Linked DNA regions of Homo sapiens: region 2 is linked to region 1. The links come from fine-mapping of genetic effects on plasma protein levels. A gene starts in region 1. The other region holds a variant in brackets. All regions are shown on one strand. Distances are between the middles of the regions. Region 1 holds the start of FBP1 (fructose-bisphosphatase 1). Region 2 overlaps FBP1 (fructose-bisphosphatase 1).

Region 1 (10,571 bases):
ATACCTTACGTAGCCAAAATTAACATGCTTCATCCAGGCCCCACCATCAAAATCTCACTATCCAAGGTCCCACTGTCTAAGGTTACTTAGACAGTGGGACACCTCAAAACACATCTTACATTTCTCAGTCTCTCTAGGGGTGTGAAAGGTACTGACACATTTTTTAAACAATATCAGACATGACAAGCCCTTTTTTTTCTTTTTTTGAGACAGAGTCTTACTCGGTCGCCAGGCTGGAGTAGAGTGGCACGATCTGGGCTCACTGCAACCTCCGCCTCCCGGGTTCAAGCAATTCTCCTGCCTCAGCCTCCCAAGTAGCTGGGATTACAGGCGCCTGCCACCATGCCTGGCTAATTTTTGTGTTTTTAGTAGAGACAGGGTTTCACCATGTTGGCCAGGCTGGTCTCAAACACCTGGACTTTGAGTGATCTACCCGTCTCAGCCTCCCAAAGTGCTGGGATTACAGGTGTGAGCCACCACACCCAGTCGACAAGCCCTCTTTTTAAAATATATCCCTGGTCCTCAAAGGCAGTTAAAGCTGTGAGCCACCTATACTAGCTGTAAATTAAAGCTTAAGATTTCACCTGGGTATGTTTCTAAAATAAGAATCCTTAGGAATGTATTATTAAGAGGGGCCAGAGGCAACAGTAATGGAGTCATCACCTTCCTTAACATGTCTGCTTAATATTCAAAAATAAATGTGATCATACCACTCCTTTACATGAATTACCTCCACCAGTCCATACTGTGGGACCAAAGCCAGACAGCCTGCCAGTAAGAAAAGGAATCTAGATTGCAGGATGCGGGGCGGAGAAGAGTTTTTAAGAATGGAGAAATGCATTCCAAACCCAAGTAGCAGGGTTGTATTTGTTCAGGTCAGCTCTGAGCATCATGCGTCTTTTTTTTTTTTTTTTAAGACAAAGTCACGCTCTTGTCGCGCAGGCTGGAGTGCAATGATGCGATCTCGGCTCACTGCAACCTCTGCCTCCTGGGTTCAAGCAATTCTCCTTCCTCAGCCTCCCGAGTAGCTGGGATTACAGGCGCCTGCCACCACACCCAGCTAATTTTTGGTAGAGACGGGGTTTCACCATGTTGATCAGGTTGGTCTTGAACTCCTGACCTCAGGCAATCCACCTGTTTCGGCCTCCCAAAGTGCTGGGATGACAGGCTAGAGCCTACGCGCCCAGCCCATCATGTGTCATTTTTATAGTGTGCATAAGTGCGGGGAATGTTAGTAAAGTGTATGGACAATCTGAAAACCCAGTTACACTTCAGTTAAAAGTGTGGATCAGTTAGCTAGAAAATACCTGCGCACGGCGGCTCATGCCTGTAATCCCAGCACTTTGGGAGGCCAAGGCATCACCGGAGGTCGGGAGTTCGAGACCAGCCTGACCAACATGGAGAAACCCCGTTTCTACTAAAAAAAATTACAAAATTAGCTGGGCATGGTGGCACATGCCTGTAATCCCAGCTACTCGGGAGACTGAGGCAGGAGAATCGCTTGAACCTGGGAGGCAGAGGTTGCGGTGAGCCAAGATCGCACCATTGCACTCCAGCCTGGGCAACAAGAGCAAAATTCCATCTCAAAAAAAAAAAAAAAAAGAAAAGAAAAAGAAAATACCTGTGCACACCAACACAAACGAAAGGATGTTGTGTGACTTACAAAAAACCTCACAAGAAGGGGTCCTTTGAGTCTCCACTCCACTTGACCCCTTGCTACTCACAATGTGATGAGTAGACAAACAGTATCTGATGGGCAGCACCCACCACAGGAGAACTTCTTAGAAATGCAGAATCTCAGGACCTGTCCCAGAGCTATGGAAGGAGGGCACACATCTTACCAAGATCCCCAAATGATTCCTGTGCCCAGTGACGTTCGAGATGCACTCCATAGCGCATTCAGAACCATTCTACAAACCACTTTTGAGCTTTCCACTAATTGGGCAGAGGCTGCACACACCATCATTGCAAATCGATAGGGGTTTTGAAGCCCTGGGTGTTTCCTGTTTCTGGCACAGCATGGCAACTGTCCCAGCAAGGGGCAGCCCACGGGAGCTCCTTTGCACACAAGCCCTGCTGCTCCTAAAGGCTCTGGACACACAGGAGACCTCCCAGCCTGCTTGCGGGGGGGGCGGGGGGGACACTCGCTCCTAACAGGTCTTGTTTCAGGTCAGAGATAACTGGATTAGAAACCTGACTTGGGTCCCTAATTGCAGAAAGAGTGAAGGAGGACAAAGAAGAAATGGGGAAGGAAGGCACCTGAGCTAGCACTTTCCTGTCTGAGGCTAGGGCGGGTATGACGGGCAGGCCAGGTGCCCACACTTGGCCGGCTGAGAGGGGTACGAGGCAGGCTGCTCAGGGCAGAGAAGAGGAATGCAAGATGGAATCAGGTGTACACCTGTGAGACGGACCCCCAGGTGGGCCCCTCCAAGGTCAAGGGAGGAGATGAGGACTTGAGTGAGGCTGAGCCAGCTTCTGGAGAGAGGGGCTACCAGACAGAGAGCGAGAGAGGCGCTCAGACATCAGACGGACAGACAGAGGCTGACGGCAGGAGGCTCAGAGGGCCCAACGTCAGCCCGCCGGGCAGGCTCCCCAGGCAGACAGACAGGACGGGGCCCACCGCCCAAGGCCCGACTCACAGGTGCGCGATGCCCGCCTTGCGCACCGCCGAAGAGATGGCTTTGACTGCTGTGCAGAGCGAGTTGAGCAGCTGGGTCAACTCGCCCGTGCCGCGGGCCTTCCTGCCCTCCTCCATGACGAAGCGGGTCAGGGTGTTGACGTCCGTGTCGAAGGGCGCCTGGTCAGCCATGCTTGAACCGGGTAGAGCGCGGGGCTGCAGGTGCAAGCGGCAGGTGCGGGGCTGCAGGTGCGGGCGGCAAGAGAGGGCAGTAGGCACTGGCCGCAGGTGCGGAGCTGCAGGTGCGGGCGGCAGGTGCGGGCCGCGGGACCTGGCGGGAGGACTGACAGACCGACTGCCGCCCCGAGTGTCCGCAGCGCTCGTGGTGCAACTGGGCCAGGCCAGGCGCCGGCGGGTGAATCGCGGAAACCTTTAGACGCGGGTCGGCCCCCCGCCCCCGGGAACACTCTTGCGCCCCGCCTACCCCGCGGACCAGACCGCGGCTCCGCCTGCTTGGATCTTCAGACAAGGTCGGGGATCCTCCCTGCGGTCTCCCAACCCCCGCCCCCACGCGCCCTGCCGCCCCCTAGTCTTCCTGGGCTGTCGCCCCCCACACACACCCCTCCGTGCCCTCCACCCGCACTGTGGAGCGGGACTCGGGCCATCGGACTCTGCCAGAGAGAAAGCTATGACTGTTTCCTCCAAAATCATAAAACGGAAGTTCAGAAAGGTTAAGTAACTTGCTCAATGCCACCAGCTAGGCAGCGAAACCCGCAGCCAGTCCACATGGCCTGGCTTTAGCTCTGCAGCTCCTGCCCCGTGTGGCTGCCTGCCCCCGCCCCCTGCCCAAGCCCCGTCCACTCTGCCTGGCCTGTCACCTGGCCCTTCTGTCCCCGCTAGGAGACACAGAGTCCCCGTTTCTCACCCATCTGAGGGCCCACGTCTGAATCCTTAATCCAGGCCTCTTCTCAAGATTCCTAGAATTCGAGAGCTATTGAGTATTTGAATTTCCAAGATGTGAGTCTCGCCCGGAAGTTTCCCGGAAAACGGTCGCTGACACAGAGTCCTCGGCTACCACACAAAGGCCAGAGGGCTCCACCGCCCGCATCCTGACCCCCTGGTAGCCACAATGCTGCAATTGATGTGCTGATTCACGAAACAACACCTATTGAGCACCTGCTGTGCTGAACACTGTCCTACCTTCCAGGGGTGGAGCCTGATCCAAACAGACAAAACTCCTGCCCTTTTCGAGTGTACGTTTTCACAGAGAAACAGTAAAAATAAATATATAAACAATAGATTAGTTTGTTACATAAGCCATAAGTACCATAGAGAGAAACGAAATAGAAAAGGAAGACACGGAATGTGGAGGGGAGAAGAGGGTGAGCAGAGGCCTCAGTAAAAGCTTCTCTGAGAAAGGGATATGTGAGCAAAGAGGTGAAGGATGCAACGCGCCGGTGGAGATGGGAAGGAGAGCGGTTTCCTCACCGGGAGAGCCAGTGCACAGGCCCTGGGGTAGGAGACCATGTTTCAGGTTCAGGGAATGGCCAGGAGACCGGTGGAGCTGAAATAGAGCTAGCAAGGGTCAGAGGTGGAGGAGATAAGGCCAGCGGGAGGATGCAGAGGTGAGGTCTAGAGGGCCAAGTGAGGTTTGACTTTGACTAGGAGGAACCCACTGGAGAGTTTGGAGAAGAAGAGAGGCATGGTCTACCCTGTGTCTTCATACTGCGGCTACTGTGTGAAGATCAGACTGAAGACAGTGCCCTCCAGGTTACTAGGAGATAGTGAGCCAGGTGTTAGCAGTGGAGGTGGTGGATTCTGGACATATTTTGAAGGTAGAGCTGATGGGATTCGTTGACAGATGAGATATGTGAGAGACAGGAGTCTCGGATGATTCTAAGGTTTGAGGCCTGAGAAACTAGAAGAATGCAGTTGTCCTCGACTGCGATGGGGAACACCGAGAGGGGCGTGTGCTGGAGGCAGGACTGACAATTAGGAGCTAAGTGTGGGACCTGCTAAGTTTGAAATGCCTTCTAGACATCCAAGGCAATGTCAAATAGACAGATTTATGTATCTGGAGTTCAGAGGAGAGATCCATGCTGCAGGTATAAATTGGAAAAGCCAACTGGAAAAACCAACCAAAAACCAAGAGATGTGACATCCGGGAAGCCAGATGAAGAAGGTAAGTAAAGGCGGGCTGACCCATGTGCCAAGCGGTGTGGATGGGGCAGGCAGGACAAGCTCTGAAAATTGACTGCTGGATTCACCGTGGAGACCTGGGGTGCAGATTCCTGTGCCCAGGGTTGTCAGATGCGGCGGCGTTGAATGAAGGAAGGTGGTGGTACCACCAGGAAAGACAGCGACTGTCTCCTCAAAGCCCCAGAGGGGACTTAGATGCCTGGCAAAGAGAGTTGATCCTTTAAGGGTCTTATTTAACTCTTTGTTCCTCAGGCAACTTTTCAGGAAAAACCCTGTGTTAAAAAAAATAGTAAGAGAAATACATCCTTAAACATAAAAACTCAAATAGGCCCGGCTCACTGGCTCACACCTGTAATCCCAGCACTTCACTTTGGGAGGCCGAGGCGGGCAGATCACCTGAGGTTGGGAGCTCGAGACCAGCCTGACCAACATGGAGAAACCCCGTCTCTACTAAAAGTACAAAAATTAGCTGGGCATGGTGGTGCATGCCTGTAATTCCAGCTACTCAGGAGGCTGAGGCAGGAGAATCGCTTGAACCTGGGAGGCGGAGATTGCAGTGAGCAGAGATGGCACCATTGCAGTCCAGCCTGGGCATCAAGAACAAAACTCCATCTCAAAAAAAAAAAAAAAAAAGAAAAACAAACAAACTGGAGGCTGAGGCGGGCAGATCTTGAGGTCAGGAGTTCAAGACCAGCCTGGCCAACATGGTGAAACCCATCTCTACTAAAATAAAAAATTAGCCGGGCATGGTGGTGTGCACCTGTAATTCCAGCTACTCAGGAGGCTGAGGCAGGAGAATCGCTTGAACCCGGGAGACAGAAGTTGCAGTGAGTCAAGATCCTGCCGCTGCACTCCAGCCTGGGCAACAGAGCGAGATTCAATCTCAAAAAAAAAAAAAAGAACTGAAATGTGATGACTAGTATTTTTGGCATAGTAACTAGTTACTAGGGGAGAGCTAGAGCTAGTAACTAGGGGAGTGTGCCCCTTTACTTGCCAGACTCTCAGTCCCTCAGGATCTTGGATTGGCTAGGACCGTAAAAGTCATCTAGTCCAGCCAACCCTCATTGGACACCATCCCTGATAAGAGGTGAAGAGCTTGGGATCTGCATTAAGCAAACTTGTTTGAGTCCCAGCTCCAGCCCTCAGCAGCCAGAGATCTCGGACCAGTTACCTAATCTCTGTAAACCCAGTTTGTTCATCCATATAGTGGAATAATGGTTCCATCTGGCAGTGGTGTCATCGGGCTGAAATGAGATGGCATTGGCAGAGTGCTTAGCTCAGAGCTACACACAGGGGACACACTGAATACGTGGAGGAGACCCCTGTCTAGCTCAGTCACTTCTGCTTGTCACCCACGATGATGGGCAGCTCATTGCCTACAAGGCAAGCCATTCCCCTTGGGACTAGGCCACGTCGCATTGTGGTGAAGTGCACAGACTCTGGGGCTGCATGGCTTGGGTCCAAACCCTGGCCTGGCCACTTACTGGCTGTGCAAGCCTGTGCAATTGGCTAAACCTCACCAAGCAACCATTGGCTCATCTGTAAACTGGGGCTAATGATTGTAGCCACCTCATAGGGTTGCTGGGAGAATTATACAGGCAGTGCTGGTAGTGTTTAAGAACAGTGCCCAGCATGTAGTAAGTACACAGTATGTAAGTGTTTGCTTCGTTACATGGGTAGGGCCAACTGTTGTTTTCATGTGAACAGAAGCAAGAAAGTTCCCTGGCCATCAAAAGGGGCTAGAGGGATGTGGGAATTGGCAGCTGAGCCTGTATTTGCCTGGTGTGCAGTGATATCCCCTCCATCATATTGGTCGATTGTGACTCGCTCTTTTCTGGGTCAAGATGCATAAAGCCCATCACCCAGGTATTAGCAAGAGACAGAGGAAGGCGGCCACCTCACATGGGTTCCTGGCCTGTGGGTTGGGCCCCTCCCTCCTCCACCCACCACCCTCGCAGAGTTGCTTCTTGCCACATACTCCAACTTCACATGGGATTGCAGATTCAAGTGATGTGAGCAGTATTACCACATGTGTAACACTCGAAATCCTGCGAAGAATCAGTGCTCATGCATTTCCTCACCCAGCTCCCACGATGGGGTTATGTTGGAGGCGGGCAGTGGAGAAGTAACAGTGTGGACAGTCCCTGCCCCTACAACAGCCGCCCTCAACCCAGGGCTCCACTGCTTACTTTCCCCTCTGTGGGGGCGGTTAGTGCCACAGGAAAGAAAAACAGGCCAGGCACAGTGCACACACCTGTAATCCCAATGCTCTGGGTTGCCGAGGCAGACAGACCACTTGAGCCCAGGAATTTTAAAAGCGGCCTGGACAACATAAGGAAAACACTGTCTCTAAAAAAATTTAAAAATTACCCAGGAGTGGTGGCGCATGCCTGTAGTCTCAGCTACTGGAGAGGCTGAAGGAGGAGGATCACTTGAGCCCAAGAGGTCGAGGCTGCGGTGAGCCGTGATCACAGCACTGCACTCCAGCCTAGGCAATAGAGTGAGAGTGTGTCTCTAACAAAAACACAAAAAGAAAAACAAAAGCCAAGTGGTGTATGTGAGAGGGATTGCAGTAGCATGGTCCTTCCTTAAACACCTCCCCCAGCTCCTGTGGCCCCGGGGGCCTGGTGTGGAAACTAAACAGCAAACATCTATTTAGCACTTGCTAAGGGTGTGGCACTTGCCCAGGGCTTCAGAAGCAGCCTTTAATCAATCCAGAACCACTCTGGGGTGGCTTCTAATCAAACCCCTGTCTTTACAGATGAAGGGACTGAGGCTTTTCTTTCTTTTCCTTTTCTTTTCTTTTCTTTTTTTTTTTTTTGAGATAGAGTCTCACTCTGTCGTCCAGGCTGGAGTGCAGTGGCATGATCTCGGCTCACTGCAAGCTCCGCCTCCCAGGTTCACACCATTCTCCTGCCTCAGCCTCCTGAGTAGCTGGGACTACAGGCCCCCGCCACTTCGCCCAGCTAATTTTTTGTATTTTTAGTAGAGATGGGGTTTCACTGTGTTAGCCAGGATGGTCTCAATCTCCTGACCTCGTGATCCACCCACCTCAGCCTCCCAAAGTGCTGAGATTACAGGCGTGAGCCACTGTGCTTGGCCCAATTTTTGTATTTTTAGTAGAGATGGGATTTCACCATGTTGGTCAGGCTGGTCTCAAACTCCCAACCTCAGGTAATCTGCCCGCCTCGGCCTCCCAAAGGGCTGGAATTACAGATGTGAGCCACCACGCCCGGCCAACAAGGTCAAATAACCTGTCCAAGGCCTGCAGCCAGGCAGGAAGTGACAGAACAAAGACTCAAACCCTCATCTGTCTGATTCCAAACCCCATATTCCCACTGACTTGCTGGTTCTTTCCTAAGTGGCAGTTTCCCTCCACGTCATGCCTCCAGGGACAGGCAAGGCTCTGAGCCCGCCTACGGCAGCTCTCTGGACTCTAGAGCTATTTCTGGGCTCATGTTCATTCATTCTTTCACTCAACACATAGTTTTTGAACACCTGCTGTATGCCAAAACCATACCACACCCTGAGGTTGCAGTGGTGAACAGGACAGACACAGCTCAGTCCACTTTAGGTTTATATTCTTTGTGGGGGAGATAAGAAAAAAAATCATTTAACCAACAAAGACACAAAACTGTTTCAGGGAGCAGAGTGCTATGAAGACTGTAAAGCAGGATGAGGTAAAAACTCAAAGCCTTTCTTATGAAATGACTTTTGATCAGAGACTGAACAACAGAAAGGAATGGGGCAAATGAAGAGCTCATAGAGGAACATACAGAAGAACAAGCAAGGCTACGGCAGGTGCAAAGACCCTGGTGCATTCAAGGATCAGCTGGGAGAAGGCCAGTGTGGCCTGAAGGGCAAGTGAGGGAAGAACCACAGGAGATAAAGTTGGAAAGAGAGACGAGGGCAGATTATGAAAGGCCTCACAGCAAGTCGCTCAGGTTCTATTCATGCAGCCAGAAGACAGGGGAGGCCAGGTGCAGTGGCTCACGCCTGTAATCCCAGCACTTTGGGAGGCCGAGGCAGGCGGATCACGAGGTCAGGAGATTGAGACTATCCTGGCTAACGTGGTGAAACCCCGTCTCTACTAAAAATACAAAAAAATTAGCCTGGCGTGGTGGCGGGCACCTGTAGTCCCAGCTACTTGGGAAGCTGAGGCAGGAGAATGGCATGAATCCGGGAGGCGGAGCTTGCAGTGAGCTGAGATCGCGCCACTGCACTCCAGCCTGGGTGACAGAGCGAGACTCTGTCTCAAGAAAAAAAGAAGATGGGAGGGTTTTAAGCTGGGGAGCGACATGACTTACTAAACGGTGTGAGAATGGACCGTAGGTGGTCAAGAGCAGAAGCCAGGAGACCCAGCAGAAGGAGTCTGACCTAACCTCTACTTGATTTACAGTCAAATATGTGAAGCCCGCTGTCATATTCCCCATACATCTTTACTTCTCCAGTTAAATATTTTCAGCTCCTCCAGCTGCTCCTCAGGTGGCAAGATTTTGAAGTTCTTCCCTTCCTGTTCTGGACCTGGTGGCCCCTTGAGGCTCCTTATAACCCCATGCTCTATTTCCACGATTCCACCCATCTGCTCCACCTCATGTTCCAGGGGTCCTCTCTCCTAGGAAACTAGCTGTATTTTCTCCCCCCTGCTGATAATATTAGGAACAGGCTGATGATTGCAGCAGCAGGATGGGGCAGAGGGCAACTGAACCATGATGCAGTTGTAGTAAAGAGCTCAGCCAGCCCTGCGGGGAGCTCCTCTGAAGCTAAGATGACTCTGCAGAGCTGTCCTGAGTTGGGGCAAAGAGGCCTGGAAGTTAGACCTCCAGGCCAACATGTCATGGGCTATTGGCTGTCCTGGGAAGGGGCGTGACGTGGGAGAGTTAGCTGTCATCAGCAGAGGCAGTTCCAAAGACGGATGACAGCTGAGCACCGCCCACCGGCAGCAGTCCCAAGAGCTGGGAGCCCCTTCTTTGTCCTTAATGAGGAGCTGCAAGGCATCCCACAGCACCCACCGTCATCAGCAAGGAAGGCCAGAAACTGCGGGGAAGCAGGGTCTGTCTGCATCTCTCGGCTTTCCTTTCCTCTGTGTGGCATCACTCTCAGACACTCTCTCCCCTTGAAGCCCCATGTATGGCCACAGGTATCCCCAGAACTGTGCTCAGTCAGCCCAGCTTCCTTTCCCTCTAGTTCCAGCAAAAATCCAGTGTGGAACTCTTCCTGGTCCAGAGAGGTGACCATTCCCTGGCCAAGAATTGTTATAGTGATAGCACAGACCTCCTCCAATTTATAAAAGGTGTAAGTAATTACACACATTAGTGCTCTGTTACACAGATTCACTGAAATCATGGAAGTTGGGATACGCCCAATACACAGTGGCTGCAGCAGATATGGAGGGATGGTAGCCAGGGTGGAGCATTCTGGAGCTGAGGGAGCATAAAATAGCATGAGAGGCCGGGCACAGTGGCTCACACCTGTAATCCCAGCACTTTGGGAGGCCAAGGCGGGAGGATCATCAGGTCAGGAGATCAAGACCATCCTGGCTAACACGGTGAAACCCCGTCTCTACTAAAAATACAAAAAATTAGCGGGGCGTGGTGGCGAGCGCCTGTAGTCCCAACTACTCGGGAGGCTGAGGCAGGAGAATGGCGTGAACCTGGGAGGCGGAGCTTGCAGAGAGCTGCGATGGCACCACTGCACTCCAGCCTGGGCAACAGAGCGAGACTCCATCAAAAAAAAACAAAAACAAACAAACAAA
Region 2 (10,571 bases), 18 kb before region 1:
GGGCATGATGCTGCACATCTGTAGTCCCAGCTACTCAGGAGGCTGAGACAGGAGGTATCACTTGAGCCAGGAGTTCGAGGCTGCAGTGAGCCATGACTGTGCACTCCAGTCTGGGTGACAGAATGAGGCCCTGTCTCTAAAAACAAAACTAAACAAAACAAATTTCTAGCGTAATTCCCAAAGTAGATAACTTTCAGTGGTAGTGGGAATACCGCAGATTCCTGTTTTGAGTGGGATTTTCAGTGGTGTGCAGGAGCTGGCTGGTATCGGCTCTCAGGAGCTAACGGTGCACATCTCTTCCCAACTCTGCCTTCAGTGATATCACATTGGTAGCTTAAAATCAACGATGGGAGAGTATTCACACCATTGACAGAGGCAAGTGGACATATCAGAGACTTGTTTGTTTGCTTTGAGACCCAGTTTACCAGCACATCACTGGGAGTTTTCCATCTCCAAATTAGCCACTTTACAATGTCGTTTTTAAATGTCTGTAGCAGATTAACATGATTCCCTGCCCTCTTGCTCTTCACAGACCACCCTCACTAATGCAGGAGGAACTGGAAACTGGAACACAGGAAGCTGCCTATCATGAAGGCCCATGATAGACAAGAGAAGTCCGGCGTGAGTGATGGAGAATATTAAACAACAAATCTAAGCCATACGCCTAAAGCTGCCAAAGACCTTGAAAGGCCCAGCTGAGAAAAACATGAACTTCAAGTCTGGCATGTACGGCTATTTTAGGAATGATGAAAAACAACTTCATCAGATGTGGCTCCTGCCCTCTTAATAGGGTGAGGACAGGCAGCCTCTTCATCTTCTCATTGTTTTTTCCTAATTCTACTCCTTCATGTTCCCAGTTCCTCTCAAACTGGGAAAGATAGTAAGCCCATATAACTGCACTTCTAATCTCAGAAGTTTTTTTTTCTAATTACAATTGTTGTTTTATAAAAGCTGGGAATACTCTTTCATTTAACAATCTTTTTCAACAGTCATTTGTTGTTGAGGCCCTCCAATGTGCCAGGCATTGCACTAGACACTGGGACACAGAGACAAATAAGATTCATTTTCTGCTCTCAAAAAGCAGAGATAACGCCAGGTGTGGTGGCTCACACCTGTAATCCCAGCACTTTGGGAGGCCAAGGTGGGCGGGTCACTTGAGGTCAGGAGTTCAAGGCCAGCCTGGCCAACATGGTGAAACCTCATCTCCACTAAAAATACAAAAATTAGCCAGGTGTGGTGGCGGGAACCTGTAATCCCAGCTACTCAGGAGGCTGAGGCAGGAGAATCGCTTGAACCCAGGAGGCGGAGGTTGCAGTGAGCCAAGATCACACCACTGTACACCAGACTGGGCAACAAGAGCAAAACACTGTCTCAAAAAAAAAAAAAAAAAAAAAAAAAAAAGAAGCAGAGACAGACCAATAGGGACTCCAATGCGTGCATCAGGGATGGAAGTTTCAAGCAGTCTAGGTCAACAGGAGGGTCAGTGTGAAGGTCAGGAATTTGGTGGATAGGGATGTAGTACAAGAGGTGACCAACAGAAGCCAGGGTTTGAAGAGCCTTAAACATGGCAATAAAAAGTTAGAAATGGAGATGAGTTTGTGGGAGTCCACTGGGGAGAAGGCGGCGTGAGCCACAACACTCATCTGCACAGTGGCTCAGGGAGGATTCGAGAGATGGCAGCAGTGAGGTGGAAGCTATGAAAAGACCACAGCAGGGATCTAGAGGGACTCCCAGAAACCCAGCTCAGCTGAACAAGTGGAGTCAATTATGAAGCTGGGAAGAAGACCGGCTACATTAAAACCCTCAATGGTGGAAGTACAGACCCACCCTTTTCTCCGGTTCCACTATGATGGCGTGTTTATCTTCTTCTGACACGAGAACACAC[G/A]TGGCAAAGGATGACTTTAACATGTTCATAACCAGGTCGTTGGAGAGGACGTCCAGCTTCTTAACTTGATCACCTGTCACGTTGGTAGAACCAGCAATGCCATAGCTACAGGGAACAAAAGCCACAAAAAATAAGCCATGACCACCAGAACATGTAGATGAGTCCATAAACCCACCAAAAGTGAGTGTTCGGTAAGATTTAGAAGAAAGAGTTCATGTCCTTTGCAGGGACATGGATGAAGCTGGAATCCATCATTCTCAGCAAACTAATACAGGAACAGAAAACCAAACACCACATGTTCTCACTCATAAATGGGAGTTGAACAATGAGAACACATAGACACAGGGAGGGGAACATCACACACTGGGGCCTCTCAGGGAGCTGGGGACTAGGGGAGGGAGAGCATTAGGAGAAATACCTAATGTAGATGACAGATTGATGGGTGCAGCAAACCACCATGGCATGTTTATACCTATGTAACAAACCTACGCATTCTGCATGTGTATCCCAGAACTTAAAGTATAATAATAATTTTTTTAAAAAAGGGCCGGGCGTGGTGGCTCACGCCTGTAATCCCAGCACTTTGGGAGGCTGAGGCGGGTGGATCATGAGGTCAGGGGATCGAGACCATCCTGGCTAACATGGTGAAACCCCGTCTCTATTAAAAAATACAAAAAAGTAGCCGGGTGTGGTGGTGGGTGCCTGTAGTCCCAGCTACTTGGGAGGCTGAGGCAGGAGAATGGCGTGAACCCAGGAGGCGGAGCTTGCAGTGAGCCGAGATCGTGCCACTGCATGCCAGCCTGGGCGACAGAGCGAGACTCCGTCTCAAAAAAAAAAAAAAAAAAAAAAAATACAAAAAATTAGCCGGGTGTGGTGGCGGGCGCCTGTAGTCCCAGCTATTCAGGATGCTGAGGCAGGAGAATGGCGTGAACCCGGGAGGTGGAGCTTGCAGTGAGCCGAGATCGCACCACTGCACTCCAGCCTGGGCGACAGAGCAAGATTCCGTCTAAAAATATATATATTTTTAGAAGAAAGGAAGGAGGACATCAGCTTGGGAGAACAAGGCAGGAAGGTCTGGACAGACCCTAGAGAGGAGGAGATACTATCATCTGCCTCTTCACCTCGAACCTGTCATGGTGCCCTGCACACTTTTGTGGTTAAATCAGTGTTTCTTAACTTTGTTTTCATTATGATTCCCCTAGGGAGCTTTTTAGAACATTTTTTCCTCAACCATACTCCCCCATGAAATATTTTTAATACTACAGATATAGTAGATATCTGTTTATTGCAGTATGTGTCTCAGTGCTTTTTACATAAAAAGTTTGCGGGTGTTTTTGGTTTTGCCCAGAAAGAACCAGTGTTGGCCCCCAAACACACGGGTTAAACGAATCAATAGAGAGACCCAGCAAGCAAGGAAGCCTGGGTCGGGGGTAGCCTGAGTTGCGAGCCAAGCCAAGGGGTTTATGGCTTTATAACTAAAAAGACCCTAAAAGAAACAAAGCATCAACCGGCCCCTCTGCCTCATTTCATAGAGGAGAAAACTCAGACCCAAGACTCCTGTGGACTTCTCCACACAGGCAGAGGGTAGAAGTGAGACGCTGCCTATGACTCCCAGGCAGAGGGTGGAGGCGAGACCCTGCCTATGACTCCCAGGCCAGGGCTCTCTTGGTGACACCCTGGGCCCCTGGCAGGAGTCCTAGGGCATGGAAGTTGCAGGGATCCTGGAGTTTTCACTATTTTTAAGCAACCTGCAAGTCAGTAATTATAGAATTCCCAGAATCCAGTGGCTTGTCTAAACGCAGCCTAGCTTCTTAGACTTACAGAAGCGGCAGGTTGTCATAGCCTGGGGTTGCCCTGAACACAGAAAGGAGGGAGACGTCTCACAGGAAGGATGCACAGAGCAAGGCGAGAGCCTTGATGTGGGAAGGGGAAAAGATGGGTCTTTGAAGACACCAGCAAGCCTCTGAAAGTGGGTGGTAAGGGCACACCCGCGCCCTTGGCCATGATGGCGATGTGCGCTCGCCTGGGAACTGACGGTCCCTGATCCAGTGGCCGTGACTGCTTCAGCTCCTGCAAGTGCATTTGCCCAAAACATAACTCGCTGTGACTGGCTGGGCAAAACTGAGCCCCTCCTAGAAACCATCCAAACCCACATGCCTGGTCCGGCCTGACTATCTCAGGAGCTAGCTCCGGCTGTCTTCTCGGGCCCGCCTGTCAGCGTCTTTCAGCCACTCTTGGCATCATTCCCTTTCCAGCCTGCAAAGCACATCTCATCCCACCAGCCCTCCTCCTGCTGCTTCTCTTTTCACCCATCACTCCTATTTCATGAGTAAAAGACCAAGATGTCTATCGAGCTTTGAGCTCCACCCCATGTCCCTGGGCTTTCGATCCTATTTCCACATGATCTTTTTCTGACCCCAATTGTGAGGCTGGGGCTTGTGCAGGAAGAAGGCAGCCAAAATCTGGGAGGCCAGAGGGACTTGGCAGGGCCCACCAGCTCAAATGCAGCTCCCTCAGTGACCCCACTAGCAGCAGTGCTCTCTCCTTTCCAGCCTGAGAGTTGCACTGTCAAAGTCACTTTATGATTATTTTTATTTTTATTTTTATTTTTATTTTTGGAGACAGTGTCACTCTGTTGTCCAGGCTGGTGTGCAGTTGCGTGATCTCGGCTCACTGCAACCTCCGCCTCCCAGGTTCAAGCGATTCTCGTGCCTCACCCTCCTGAGTAGCTGGGACTATAGCCGTATGCCACCACATCCAGCTAATTTTTGTATTTTTAGTACAGACAGGGTTTCACCATGTTGGCCAGGCTGGTCTCGAACTCCTGACCTCAAGTGATCCACCCACCTCAGCCTCCCAAAGTGCTGGGATTACAGGCATGAGCCACCGTGCCCAGCCCACTGTCAAACTCACTTCTGATTCCGGAGGGCAAATAGCACCGATGGACCAGAAGAAGGGCTTCAAGGCAGAGACCAGGTCCAGGCCTCAGCTCCCAGGCTCCCCTGCTCTTTCTGAGCCTCCCTCCCTTTCACATGTGTCCAAAGAGGGAAGTGAAGTCTGCCCCCACGCGGCTGTCAGAGGATTGCATGAGATGACATACACAAAAGGCCTAGCACTAATAGGTGCAGCCTGACAGGGACAGCTCGGGGGGCCGGGAGGGCTGGGCAGAGGGGCCGAAGGCACTGGACACGGATGAGGCACTGAGGCAGGTGCAGAAGGAAAGTCCTATATTACCTTTTGGCCCAAGTCCCATCTGCTCAGGCACTTCCCTCAGGAACACTCAGGCCATGTGGTCTCTTTTACTCAAAATCTTCCTAGACAGCTATCTGAGTGCTCATTTATTCTACAAATATTCACCAGGGACCTGCTGTGCACGGGGAACCGTTCTAGATGCTGGGGTTACAGTGCCGAACACGGTAGATCAGATCCCGCCCTTGTGGAGCGTATATTCTACTGGGGTGAGCACAAACAAGAAATAAATAAGTGTTTTGGAATGAAAAAGATATGTCAGATAGTGACAGATGCTCGCTGACATAAAACAAAAACAAGGTGACAGGAGAGGGAGATGAGAGGCTAGATGGTTAATTTAGATGGTCAGGAAGATCTCTAGGGGGGCATTCAAGCTGAATGGTACTTTGAATGTTTTTCGTAAGAATGGGAGGAAATAGGCCGGGCACGGTGGCTCATGCCTGTAATCCCAGCACTTTGGGAGGCCGAGGTGGGTGGATCCACCTGAGGTCAGGAGATCGAGACCAGCCTGATCAACATGGTGAAGCCCTCTCTCTACTAAAAACACAAAAAATTAGCCGGGCATGGTGGCGGGCACCTGTAGTCCCAGCTACTCAGGAGGCTGAGGCAGAAGAATGGCGTGAACCCGGGAGGCGGAGCTTGCAGTGAGCCGAGATTGCGTCACTGCACTCCAGCCTGGGCGACAAAGCGAGACTCCATCTCAAAAAAAAAAAAAAAAAAGAACAGGAGGAAATGGGCCAGGCACGGTGGCTCACGCCTGTAATCCCAGCACTTTGGGAGGCCAAGGCGGGTGGATCCCCTGAGGTCAGAAAATTGAGACCAGCCTGACCAATATGGTGAAGTCCTATCTCTACTAAATACATAAAAATTAGCTGGGCGTGGTGGCACATGTCTGTAATCCCAGCTACTTGGGAAGCTGAGGCAGGAGAATCCCTTGAACCCAGGAGGCGGAGGTTGCAGTGAGCCGAGATCGCACCATTGCACTCCAGCCTGGGCAACAAGAGCGAAACGCTGTCTCAAAAAAATAAAAAAAAGAAAGAATGGGAGGAAATGAAAAAGCCCTAAAGAAGCCCAAATAAGTCAGCTAGTAATGACTCCAGAGAAGAGCTGTTTGTTAGCAATTTAGCCAAAGGAAACAGTAAGTACATTTTTCACATATTTCCAAATGGAAGGGAGTGGGTACTATGTGCACATTTATACAAGTAATTTTGTAAAGCCTGAGGTCTTTTTCCTGTGATGCCTGGATCCAGGAAGCATCTAAATTCAGAGAGAGGAGACCGGAGGGAGAAAGTCCTTGTAAGGATGGCTCTGATTTGCAGTACTCCTGGGCCAGCCCCACCACCCAGAGACAGACAAGTTATCCTGTAACTGTGTCCCAAACACAGGGGCACCGTGACTTGTTTTGTGGGATTAAATGAAAGTAGGCTATTTCCTCATGCAGTGGACTGCATTTTCCGAGCTTGCAGACTCAGCAGTTGGCCAGATTAAAGTGAGAAGCAACTTCTGTTGCCCCAGATCATGCCCAGACCTACGAGAGGTTACAGTCAGTGTCAGGGTGGGTGACTTAGCAAATCATGACCACCAGCCAGCCCTCCCCACTGCCATTCCAAGAGTCTCAGATGGCTCCTACCCTTGGCACACAGAGGAACCAACACAGAGAAGCTGAGGGCCACAGAAGGGGTGGTACACCGTTCACGATGGTAGGCTTGTGGGGCCACACAGCACTCTGCAAGGACGCATGGCACAGGGTCCTCAGCACCTGCATGGACAGGGCGGCCCGCATCCACCAAGCCATGCGGGGCTCTCACCACAGAACTGACGGGGCTGCCCGCATCCACCAAGCCATGCAGGCCCTCGCCACAGAACTGACAGGGCTGGGGCCGGGCACAGTGGCTCACGCCTGTAATCCCAGCACTTTGGGAGGCCGAGGCGAGCGGATCACGAGGTCAGGAGATCGAGACCATCCTGGCTAACACAGTGAAACCCCGTCTCTACTAAAAATACAAAAAATTAGCCGGGGACGGTGGCAGGCGCCTGTGGTCCCAGCTACTCGGGAGGCTGAGGCAGGAGAAAGGCGTGAACCCGGGAAGTGGAGCTTGCAGTGAGCCCAGATGGCGCCCCTGCGCTCCAGCCTGGGCGACAGAGCGAGACTCCGTCAAAAAGAAAGAATGACGGAGCTGCCCGCGTCCACCAAACCACGCAGGACCCTCACCACCTGCAAGGACAGGGCCGCCCGCATCCACCAAATCACGCAGGACCCTCAGCACCTCCATGGACAGGGCTGCCTGCATCCACCAAGCCACACAGGGCCTTTAGCACCTGCATGGATGGGGCTGCCTGCGTCCACCAAACCACGGCAGGAAATGGGCTCCACCTGCTTCGCGTTTCCATGACCCCGCTGGGTGGTGACAGATGCGTTAAGCTGGTTCCTGCCCCTTTCTTGGGAACGCCTCTTCTCTTTACCCCCAGTAAGCGTCCTTCCCCTCTTCTAGCAGGAAGGACCCTTCTCCAGCTATCCTCCAGTTGTCTTTGAAGTGTAAGAGAACACATGAAGATAGATTACTCTGGGCTGCTCCAACTCAATGTTCACGTACTTTATAACTTTGCTAAGATATCTTGAGGGAAGGCTTCTCCTGGTTAATCCTGGCGTTAGGAAAAGCTTCCAGAAAAGCACAGGAAAAGGATCCTAAGGTAGAAACAGTGGGTCAAGAGAATAAATTCCCCCGGCTGCCAGCCAACTATGCTGCCATGTTGATAGCAACAATGTCCAGGTGTCCCTCATGTCTCCAGGTCTCCTCTGAGCCGCAGTGAGTTAAGCTGGCCACACCGTGCTGGTCCCACCACCCTGGCTTAGTCCTGTCAGGGCTGCACAGCCATGATGAGCAGTCAGGACCAGACGCAGGCTCCATCAAGCCTCCCCCGTCACACCTCGGGGACCCTAAGAAGGGCTTGAGATTTCCCCGAGTAACACATTTACACAGGTCAATGAAAAGTGGCAAGCAGGCAAGGCTTCCGTGATTCTGAGAGAGGAAAAATTCCTCAGAAACAAGCTCAAGGACTTAATTAGCTGAAGATCACATGCAGTTTATTTTCTCCATAAGTTTTCAGAAGCCCCCTTAGAAATACTAAATGTCTGGCCAGGCACAGTGGCTCACACCTGTAATCTCAGCACTTTGGGAAGCTAAGGCAGGCGGATTACCTGAGGTTCAGGATTTCGAGACCAGCCTGGCCAACATGGTGAAATCCCATCTCTACTAAAAATACAAAAATTGGCCAGTCGCAGTGGCTCACACCTGTAATCCCAACACTTTGGGAGGCTGAGGCAGGTGGATCACCTGAGGCTGGGAGTTCAAGACCAGCCTGACCAACATGGAGAAACCCTGTCTCTACTAAAAATACAAACTTAGCTGGGTATGGTGGCATGTGCCTGTAATCCCAGCTACTCAGGAGGCTGAGGCAGGAGAATCGCTTGAACCCGGGAGGCAGAGGTTGCAGTAAGCTGAGATCACGCAATTGCACTCCAGCCTGGGCAACAAGAGTGAAACTCCATCTCAAAAAAAAAAAAAAAAATTAGCCGGGCGTGGTGGCGGGCGCCTGTAATCCCAGCTAGTAGGGAGGCTGAGATAGGAGAGTCACCTGAACCCGGGAGGCGGAGGTTGCAGTGAGCCGAGATCACACCACTGCACTCCAGCCTGGGCAAAAAAGAGTGAAATTCCACCTCAGAAAGAAAAAGAAAAGAAATTATAAATGTCTGCCTGCTGATCAGTCATCATTCCTGAATGGCCCTGAAGGATAGATTAACAAGAGCATTCACTCTATATTCCAATCACCACCTAGAGAGGGCGGGCTCAGCAGCCTAGAGTCAATAGCAGGTGTGGGTCTCAGCTCCTGGTGAGACAGCCCTGAGCCCTAGCGAATGCAGCGGCTGCCATCCCCCGTCTGAAGTTCTAGGAAGACTCCAGGAGAGCCCAGTGGATCCAGAAGACCATCCTGCCTTGGAAGGCGTTTCCAGGAGGCAGCTGTGAACCAGAGGTGATGACACCAACTACCCTCCGTGGGACTCGACTGGAGCCTTGCACACACCACCCAGCTCCCTTCTAGATCAGCTCCCAATTTGCCATTCTCTAGGGATGGGAAAAGGCAGCAAATGAGGCTGGAGGGATATGGGAAACCATCACACGACCCTGTCCAAAAAAGCCCTCCCCAGGCCAACTGTGCCTTACAATTAAAGGAGAGGAACAGGTGAAATGGCCAAGACATGGGCTGAACTGAGCCAGATGTAAACCTCCAGGCCTAGCTCCCTTCCCCTACCTCCCTCCCCTGCTCTGCCCCTCAGCCCCACTGCCAGAAAAGGAGTCAACAGTAGCAGTTGGGGGCTGATCATGCAGGGGCAGGAAGGGCAATTTTGATTGAGCCAGTGACTTGATCTGCCAAGGAAATGTTTTCTGAATAAAAGTTATCACAGAGGTGGCCAGACACAGTGGCTCATGCCTGTGATCCCAACATTTTGGGAGGCCAAGGCATGTGGATCACTTGAGGACAGGAGTTCGAGACCAGCCTGCCAACATGGTCAAAGCCCACCTCTACTAAAAATACAAAAATTAGCCAGGTGTGGTGGCACATGCCTACAATCCCAGCTACTTGGAAGGCCGAGGCACAAGAATTGCTTGAACCCAGGAGGCAAAGGTTGCAGTGAGCCAAGGTCACACCACTGCACTCTAGAACGGGCCACAGAGACTCTGTCTCAAAAAAAAAAAAAAAATTTATCATAGAGGGGAAAGGCAACATTGTGAGGTTTTCTCCACCTTTTCTGTATTGGGCCTAAGAGGAGAAATGTCAGAGCATAAGGAGCAAAGTGGCTTGAGGCCTTCCTTGAGAAGTAGCAGGCAGCAAACAAGAGAACAGGGCACCTGCTGAGGCCAGAGCACCACTGGCCGCTACTGTTGGCAACAGAATTTAAATGCCCCGCACCTCACAGCAAGGAGGCCAAACGGGCTGCATAGAACCCCAGAGCCCCAGCCGAATCAGGGCACAGTGTTGCACAAATGTCAGCTACTTCCAGGCATGTGTGAATCAATAGGTGGCTTTCAAACCACGGCTGAAAATTCTAGGACATGCTTTTAAATTGCACTGTTCCAGAGACCCGGATATTTGGTTTCCATATATCCAAGTTGAAGCTGAGATTTTCTTGAGAATAGCAAAGAGAACAATGATGAGGAAACACTAATCATGATTCACACTATATTTAAATACTTTAAAATCTCGTTCTATGTTGTATCAAGTTTATAAAACAAGTATATATTACATGCAATCTATTGGGTAATTTCAATTAAAGGCTTTTTGTTGTTGTTTTTTGTTTGTTTTGAGACAGAGTCTCGCTCCGTCACCCAGGCTGGAGTGCAATGGCGAGATCTTGGCTTACTGCAACCTCCCCCTC

What was found. PIP is the posterior inclusion probability: the model's chance that the variant is causal. Protein levels are from antibody-based Olink assays in UK Biobank. Linkage for the fine-mapping came from a reference panel and not from the study's own genotypes, which makes the PIPs less certain.
Region 2: its variant is fine-mapped to the plasma level of the FBP1 protein (UK Biobank, PIP above 0.99). The variant lies in the coding sequence of FBP1. If it changes the protein, the assay may bind it differently, which can mimic a change of level.

The regions. Positions count from the first base shown.
Region 1 is chr9:94,636,502-94,647,072 of GRCh38, forward strand. FBP1 (fructose-bisphosphatase 1) reads right to left here and starts at 3,017. Exons shown (of 7, transcript NM_000507.4): 1 at 2,640-3,017. The coding sequence starts at 2,809. RefSeq lists a silencer at 3,091-3,150.
Region 2 is chr9:94,618,502-94,629,072 of GRCh38, forward strand. FBP1 (fructose-bisphosphatase 1) reads right to left here. Exons shown (of 7, transcript NM_000507.4): 2 at 1,828-1,990. Among named protein-coding and RNA genes, the nearest start is that of FBP1, 16 kb to the right of the region's middle. The variant G/A (reference allele first, on the strand shown) is at 1,886.